2 separate regions of the Homo sapiens genome follow, and region 1 is linked to region 2. The links come from fine-mapping of genetic effects on gene expression. A gene starts in region 2. The other region holds a variant in brackets. All regions are shown on one strand. Distances are from middle to middle.

Evidence for each region. PIP is the estimated chance that this variant, and not a neighbour inherited with it, causes the effect. A credible set is the group of variants that fine-mapping cannot tell apart.
Region 1: its variant is the best candidate, but not a certain one, in a credible set for the expression of C1QTNF6 in whole blood (INTERVAL, PIP 0.68).

What each region holds. Positions count from the first base shown.
Region 1 is chr22:37,221,926-37,226,144 of GRCh38, forward strand. RAC2 (Rac family small GTPase 2) reads right to left here. Exons shown (of 7, transcript NM_002872.5): 7 at 3,345-4,114. Among named protein-coding and RNA genes, the nearest start is that of SSTR3, 12 kb to the left of the region's middle. RefSeq lists a silencer at 858-997. The variant G/A (reference allele first, on the strand shown) is at 2,507.
Region 2 is chr22:37,186,231-37,190,742 of GRCh38, forward strand. It overlaps C1QTNF6 (C1q and TNF related 6), which reads right to left and starts at 2,017. Exons shown (of 3, transcript NM_031910.4): 1 at 1,933-2,017. The coding sequence starts at 1,983. It overlaps IL2RB-AS1 (IL2RB and C1QTNF6 antisense RNA 1), which reads left to right. Exons shown (of 2, transcript NR_199008.1): 2 at 1-592. RefSeq lists enhancers at 1,121-1,756, 1,757-2,390, 2,391-3,026, 3,027-3,660.

The sequences.
Region 1 (4,219 bases), 36 kb after region 2:
GCTGGACAGCCTCCCCACTGGCCTGTGAGCTCCTGAGAGCGGGCTCATGCTTGACCCACCCCCAAGCCTTGGGCTTGACACACGGTCTCAATAACTATTTGCTGAAGGATTCAATGATTGAATAAGTCTGTGGTTCTATCAGCATTTTTGACTGCACAGTTGTTTGTAAATGAGGAAAATCCCCAGGCCACCTGGTGGCAAATGGAGTAGAGGCAGAGAGAGGGAAGACAGGAGGCCAGTGAGGAGGCTGTGGCTACTGTCCAGGGGAGACATGGCAGGGGTTAGGTTAGGGAGCAGCCGTGGGGACAAGGGGTGGATTTAATAGACAGAGGCTGAATTGTCCAAGCTTGGTGGCCAGTGAATGCCAGGGTGAAAGGATCGGAGGAGTTTGGGGGACCCCAGGCCTCCGCTTTGAAGAAGGGACAAGGAACAGCCAGTCTCTAGAATAGAAAGCACCAGATGAAGTGGCCTTGTCTGGCAGGCACTTTCCTCAACCACCAGGCCATGATTTCATTGCAAGAAGGGGCGAAGTGAGGCATGGAACCTGCTGCCAGCCCAGGCCTGGCACTAGGTGGGCACTTGGGAGGGGTTGTTGTCACATGAAAGAGCAAACCATGGTGTCAGCTCCTGCCCACAACCGGCAGGTCTTCCTGTTTCAAAACAGGTTCTCATTGACTTCCCATAAGCTTTCTCTTTCCTATATGAGGGGCCTCCATCCTCAGCCAATTTGCAGAGCAGAAACAAGTGGCTCACCCCACTTGGAGTGGCTGCTGGGAACAGTTATACAGTGGGAAGAGCACTGCGCTAGGAGTCCTACCGCTTCAGTGACAAATGCTGTCAGCTTACCGTAACAAAAGGTGTGACCAACGGTGACATTAACAATTGGGTGGTTTCATTTTCTTCAGTTCCCATAACAAGGCAGCTGTTAGCATTGGCTCAGCTGCCCACTGCTGCTGCCAGGAACTCACGCTCCTTTTATCTTTCTGCTCATCCCCTCTCAGCACGGGGCCTTGTATCTTCATGTTTGTGGCTTCAAGCTCACAAGACGGCTGCTGCAGCTCCAGACATCCCACCTGTCATTTTTTTTTTTTTTTTTTTTTTGAGTCTTGCTCTGTCACCCAGGCTGGAGTGCAGTGGCGCAATCTCGGCTCACTGCAAGCTCCGCCTCCCGGGTTCACACAATTCTCCTGCCTCAGCCTCCCGCATAGCTGGGACTACAGGCGCCCACCACCACACCCGGCTATTTTTTTGTATTTTTTAGTAGAGACGGGGTTTCACCGTGTTAGCCAGGATGATCTCGATCTCCTGACCTCGTGATCCGCCCACCTCAGCCTCCCAAAGTGCTGGGATTACAGGCGTGAGCCACCGCGCCCGGCCTGGGCCTGTCATTTTTTTAAGGAAGAAAACAACTTTCACAGAAGCCATCTCTCCCGCTGACTTTCATTCACATCGGCTTCTAGGCCAGAACTATGTGGCCTGAAAACCCCAGTGACAAAACCAGCTGGAAAAACGAGTATTTTGTTGGTGTTAGGTACGGTGCTGCTATGCACAAAACTAGGATTCTGTTAGCAAGGAGGATGGGAACAGAGGGAGAGGGTGGGAAAGGACAGCATCTGCCTTGTCAATTTGAGCCAAACCTGTGCCCTCCCGCATCCTCATCTCCTCTTCTGCAAACCGTGGCTAAGAGTACCTATCTTGGAAGGCTATTAGAACATTAAATGAGATAATATGTGCATGGGAGCCAAGACAATGAGTAAAGGAAGTTATTTACTGACATTATTATCATATAGAAGCAAAGATTGTCTCTACTGGGGTCGACCTAACGGGCTGAACACACATGGAAGGAGATCCGGGCCCACCTTTGCCCTGCAGGGAAGTTCCAGGAGCAAAGGAAAGGGGTCCAGTATGTTCAAAGGCCTGGAATGAAAGAAGCATGAATGTGGAGTGGAAGAAATGACAGTCCAGTCTGATGGTAGAGGCACGAGTGCAATAAGAGTGGGAGGCAGAGGATGGCCAGACCTTCAGGGCCATGGTTTGTTGCGGAGGCTCTGGAGTTTATCCCAAGGCTCTGTGAAGAGGAGGGATCAGAAAGAGGCTCCCTCAGACTCTGGCCAACCTCAGGGGGTGCCTCAGGGATCTTAGACATCGAACATACTAGGGAGTGGGGTCCTGGCCGCCTGCATCTGTATGGTGCCATGGATGGGTGGGGTTTAGTATTTCCTTTCTGTTTCAGAAGAGAAGTAACTTTGAAAACATCATGACTTTGAGCTGAAACTAAGAAAAGCAAAGGGGTTTCCCCTCTGCACCTAATCCCTTTTAAGGGGGGCTCCCAGGAGGTGAGTGAGCTGGAGGGGGTCCTGCCTCAGAACATGGGGACTAATGGGGATAGTGGGGTTGGCTGGGAGCTCTGGGAAAGCACAATGTGGAAACTCAAGCATTTCATGGGCTGGAAATTGGGGTCTTCTGGGTTGTCAGGGGCAGCCTCTTAGATCTCTTAGCCTCTCTA[G/A]AGTGTCAGCCTCCTGAGGGCAGGGACTTCTGAGCACTGCTGGATCCCTGGCACCTAGAACAGTGCCAGGCACAGAAGAGGTGCTCAATAAATGTGTGTTTGATGAATGAGTGAGAAGTTGAGATAGAGGAGAGTAATTGTCCGCAGGAGGGGGAGGTCTGGCACCTCCACAGAACTTAGCAAGTCCTGAGGTGGGACTGACTGTGCAGGCACTGTTGTGCCCATGTCGGAACTTCTTAAATCCTCACAACAACCCCGCCTCTCTTTTAAAGAAACTCCCCTTTGCTTATCACCTTCGGGGTCCAGCATTGTTTCATTTCACTGCTGAAATGAACACTTTCCCATGACCTCCAGTAGTGGAGGTTGAGGGTTTCTCGCCCAAATTCCCAAATTCCCGCCAGGCTCTCAGCCCACTTTGGAACTCACCCTCCCCCCCAGTACACACGCTTTCGCTGGGGTTGCCGCAGTTCTGTTCCAGCATGGCATATGGTCCATGCCTGGCCAGTCAGAGCACAGCACTGCACCACTCTGACAAATATGATTGGTTAAAAGGGGGCCCAGGACCTAAGCTGGTCCAATCACAGTAAATCTTAGTTAGAACTTTGCCTGGGATAGACATTTGCTCTTTTTGGCTGAACTTGAACTTGGAAGGATGAGGCCCTGAACTTGAACTTGGAAGGATGAAACCCTGAACTTGAACTTGGGAGGATGAAGCCCTAAGTCGCCTGCCTGAGAATGAACCAGCCAGCAGAAGGCAGAGCCCAGAGCTAAACAAGCCTCGATGACATCATTTGAATACCTTGATCAAGCTGCACCTGAAATCACGATATCTCCAAACTTGAATCAATAAATTTATTTTCTGCTTAAGCAGGTTGAGTTGGGTTTTCTATTTGCAATAGCAAAAGTCCTGACTGGCAAGGTTTAAAAGTTTGAAGACTCTCACAGGTAAGTGCAGCTCAGGATCCTGTGAGTGCAGCAGAAAGTCTTAAGAAATGGCAGGGGCTGGTTGAACCCAGATTTTCCATTGGCTGAGCAGATATCCCCAGAGGCGTAGAAAATTAAATTTGTTTTATGTTGTTCCAAAAGAGGAGAACTGAGGCCAGAGGAGCACACTTCTGAGACACTCATTTTTGCTGGGTAGAGGAACTCTCTGGCAAGCAGGACCATCGATATTAGAGCAGCTGGCCTCAGGAGGGAGTAAGAGCCCCATCCCTGAAGGTACACAAGTTGTGGCAGCAACCATCTGGCCTGCAGTTTCCAGAGGGGAGTCAGGCGTGGGGTGGGACTGGAGTGAACGGGTAGATGCTTCCACATGCGGCAGTTGGCACTGACGGCAGGAACACGGGGGTGGCTTAATGGGTCCTGGGGCTCCCCTCTGGCCCTCAGGAAGGCAGGAGCATGAGGGGCTTGGGATGCAGCACCTGCAAATTTGCACGTTCCTGGCCTCAGGAGGCCTCCAGTACAGAAAAGACCATCAACGAAGCTCTGCAGCCATCTGCTAAGAAACGCCACAGGGAGGGGACAGCATGGCCAGCCGGGGTGCCATCAGGCTTTGGGTGGGGATCCTGGAGGATCAGACCCATCTAGGTGGGAGCGCTGGGGTGCAACCTGGAAGGAAGATAAGCAGGGAAAGAGAATTTGGGGACATGCAGAATCCACAGCTCTCGCCTTCCTGGCTCACAGCTCATTCCCACCTCCAGGTCTTTGCTCAAG
Region 2 (4,512 bases):
GGTGCCCCTCTGGACAAATTAGAAATGATAAGAGTCCCCGTTGGAGGGACGTGATGCTGAGGGTGTGCAGCTTGGCAAGGGCTGGCGCTAGTCCACCTCCCTGCTCAGCACCTTTGTGCAGTCAACTATCTATGCAACCCAACCTTATCCAGAAGCCCTGCAGGGAGGGTTCTGTAGAGAGAGTTAGTTCATTGGAAGATGGTTGTGTCAATCATCGTAGACCTGCCAATCAGATGCCAAGGTGGTAAATTGGAATTAAGGGGTAGGACTAGGAGGTATAAAAAATTCTAAAGGATCAGAAAAGTGTAAGTGTTGGTGAGGATCTGTCTCTGGCCTTGGCCAAGAAGGGGTCTAGGGCTCCAGGAGAGAGGCAGGAAGTAGCCTGGACACCAGGCGCTAGAGACAGTCCTGGGTTGGGTGGGCAGGAAGCCGGGCAAAAAGACCTTTGAGGTGGTGCAGCTTCTGGGGGCTGGTGCCGAGTTATCACAGGATCAGAAACTCTGCTTTTGAAACCAGACTGGTTTTTACACTTCTGGCGTTTCTTTGTTTATTTCCTTTTTGTTCTCCTTTAACATTTAGTAGAATTCAAAAATATTTTTTTTGTGGTTAATACATGTAGACAAGGTACAATTATTACTTTTTAAAATGCCACCCTGTCTCAGCTGAGCACTGAGGTGAGGGCAGAGTTTTAAAGGGGCAGGATGGCCAGGTGCAGTGACTTACTCCTGCAATCCCAGCACTTTGGGAGGCCACGGAGAGAGGATCACTCGAGTCCCGGAGTTCGAGACCAGTCTGGGCAACATAGTGAGACCCTGTCTCTATTTTTCAAAAATTAAAACTAAAAATAAATAAAGCGGCAGGAGCCCTGCCCCCCACCCCCAGAGCTGGATGGTAGCAGCAGGAGAAGGGGGCTGGACAGGAAGTCTCCAGAGCCACCTCCCTCTTCCTGGAGGTGACTCTTCCCAAGCTTCTCTCTGCCCACCCTGGTTGGGTTCCTGGTTCTGCTCAATAAGGAGGTCAAATCCTCAGAGATCAACATCCTCCCTGTCTGAGACTGTCATCCTCAACTTTTACTTATAAATGACAAATCCCAGTGGTTTTGGAAATCCCAAAATTCCCTTCTTTTTCCCAGCCACAGATATGACCTCATGAGAAAAGCTGAGGTCTTAGAGTCAAATCTGAGACCCAGAATAGTTTGCAAGCTGTGTGACCTAGGGCTAGTGGCTGAACCTCTCTGGGCTTCCTGCTCCTTGATACTTACAAGGAAATGACACCACCCTTTCCCTCCCAGGTAATTTGGAAGGATTTCAATGCAGGAAAAGTGCCTGCCTTATAAAAGACTTAAAAAAAAAAAAAAAAGTGTGCTTTGACTTCTTCCCTGTGCCTGCATGGGATGGGAAGGAGAACTTCTCCCAGAGGACTGGCATGGTTTGGGAGCATTTCTGTTTCCTATTGGCCCCAGCGGATGGGAGTCAAAGGCTGTGAGACACAGAACCGTGGCCTGGGAGCAGGAATCAGGAAGCCGTTAACGAGGAATCATAACCACAGCCAGGATCACGAACTAGCTCTGGGGGTGGGTGCCAGGCAGGGACCAAGTGTGGGAACCAAGTCATAGGGAGGACTTTTGGGGTCCTTGCTGCTTCCACTGGGACCTCTTTGGGGAGGGAGCGGCAGGGCAACTTTTCTCGGTCCAGGCAGGCCGTGCAGAGCTGAGTTTGTGTGTGCCCGGGTAGGGGCGGGCACAAACCGGGAGCAGTGGAGCGCAGCCCTCAGCCAGAGGCAGGAGGAAATGTGGAGGGGAGAGCCTGGAGAGGCTGTCCCAGTCAGAGGGAGAGAGCAGGGCCCGAGATGCTTCCAGGAAGCAAGGAGGGAGGAGAGGAATTCCAGGCTCTGACCCCAGCCCCCAAGCTTGAGGAGCCTCTGGTCACTCACCCTGTGTCCTGTGGCCTCCCCAGGCGACTCACGGACCCTGAGCCACTGCATGGCCTCTGGCTCCTTGGCCCATGTCTGCAATACTAACTTGTTGCTGGCCCAGACCCCCAGGCCCAGCAGAGGAGGGAGAGAGGAGGGGATGGAGGGAGAGAGGGCGGAGGGAGGGCGGAGGGAGAGGGCAGAGCCGCTTCCCACTTCCCCTCCTCCCTGCTCCCTCCCTTTCAGCCTCTGGGTTCTGCGGAGATAAAGGGAGGCAGGGATTTCCTTTGCTTAACTCTTTGGTGATCCAGTGGGGTCTTGCTTGATTCAAAGGCCTAGAAAGTCAGAGCAGGCAGGAGTCTGAGGCCCCCTGATGATTGGGAAATGGACACAGGCATGGGGCACAGGAGCCCCTAGGTTGCTCAGGAAGGGGGAGGCAGCCCTGAGTCCACCCTGAGCTAAAGTGCTTAACTGCTCTGAGTCACAGAGGCAGGGTGGGTAGCAGAGAAGGTGCAGGTGTTGGCCCTCCAGGCACAGGCTAGAATCCTGGCCCTGCTACCACAGTCGCGTCGCCTCTCAGAGCCTAGGTGTTCCAGAACTGCAGTCCTCAGCCCCCTTTGTGCCAGGCACATGGGAGGGCTTAACCCATGTTTGTTGGGTGAATGACCAGGCTGACCTCCTCAGGTATCATGCAAGTGTTACCAGAGAGGGGTACTGATCAGACCCCAAGAGAGAATTCTTGGATCTTGCACCAGAAAGAATTTGGGGTAAGTCCACAGAGCAAAGTGAAAGCAAGTTTATTAGAGAAGCAAAGAAACAAAAGAATGGCTACTCCATAGGCAGAGCACCCCCAAGCACTGCTAGTTGGCTATTTTTATAGTTATTTCTTGATCCTATGCTAAACAGGGGTGGATTATTCATGAGTTTTCCAGGAAAGGGGTGGGAATTTCCTGAAACTGAGGCTTCCTCCCCCTTTTAGACAATATAGGGTAATTTCCGGACATTGCCATGGTATTTGTAGGCTGTCTTGGTGCTGGTAGAAGTGTGTTTTAGCAAGCTAACACATTTTAATTAACATACAATGAGCAATAAGGATGACCAGATGTCACTTTCATTGCAATCTTAGATTTGGCAGGTTTTGGCTGGTTTGTTTACCGCATACTGTTTCTCAGCAGGGTCTTGATGACCTGTATCTTGTGATACCAGTCCTGCCAACTTCCTATCCCTTCCTGTGACTACAAATGCCTGACCTCCTGGGAATGCAGCCTGGCAGGTCTTAGCCTCATTTTACCCAGCCCCTATTCAAGATGGAGTTGCCCTATTTTGAACACCTCTGACATATTTCCCTACTCTCTTTTACGAGGGAACGTTTAATCTTAAGGGTTGTAGAGGCATGAAGATCCATCTTCTGTAACTTCTTCAGGCTGAATAGAGGCGATGATATTCCTGCCTAACTATTAGAGTCTCTTGGGTTTGGTGCAGAGAGGAACTGAGTAAGAAAATGTTGGTGTGTTCAGAGTCATTTGTAACTCTGAGTCCTAACAAAAGGTGATATCTGGAAGATTAATGTGTTCAATTTAAGGAAGCACTGAGTAAGCTTATCTTGCATTCTTACACAAAGAGTATAGCAGCAATATATTCTACAACAGCAAAGTAAAATAAGTAAAATTATCCCAAGTAATCCAAATAAGAAGGCTTTCCATGAACTGGGCAAGAATGCCTGTGACTTATCGGGTAAAATGAGGCTGAGACCTACTGGGCTGCATTCCCAGGAGGTTAGGCATTCTTAGTCACAGGAATTGCTAGATGAGCTGATACGGAGTTGCTAGACGATTCCAATACATGCTCAGAATTAGATACTGATCCAGATTTTTATGTTATCCATCCCTCTTGTTTCTGACGAGAAGCAGTCAAGAGATGACTGTTTGGTTCACAGAAAGAAGCAAGGTCAGTCTAAATTGCAGACAAAAAACTCAAAAACAATGGATGAGACTAGAATCTATGACAGGTGTACCATATTTTTTGAAACACCGTTTTTCTCTCTCCAGTCTCCCATTTTTTATTAAAAACAAATCATGGTAGGACCAATTTATTTGCAAAATAAGCTTTAGTCTTATTATACTTGGCTTCATTATTTGCATAAAGTGCAGCAAGTATAATTATTTGCCATACAGGCTCCTTTTAAAATTGGCTTTGTTTCATAAGGTATCTTAGATTAGATGTTTTAAAGCTTTGAGCCCAGCCATGGATTTACCTATGCCTGCAAGAACCTGTATGAGTTAGATAAATTCCTCTCCTCTTGAGGTCCCGAGATAACTCGGGGCTCCCAGGCCTGTCAGAAAGTTACATTCTTTACTTACCACAGGTCAGGAACCCTATACAGGGACTTCATACACAAGGTACAAGACCAGTTTTTCCAAGAGGCTTTTATTGGCTCTATTAGTCAACTTTAATTCCTTAAAGAAGTCTGTTTATATTTGAAAGCATGCCACTCGAGTCAAACCCTTGTTAAATAACCAGTTTCTCCAATTGTGTCCTGTTACAAAAAAAAAAAAAGAAGAAAGAAGGAAAAACAGATTCTTACTGCACTTATGCAAATAA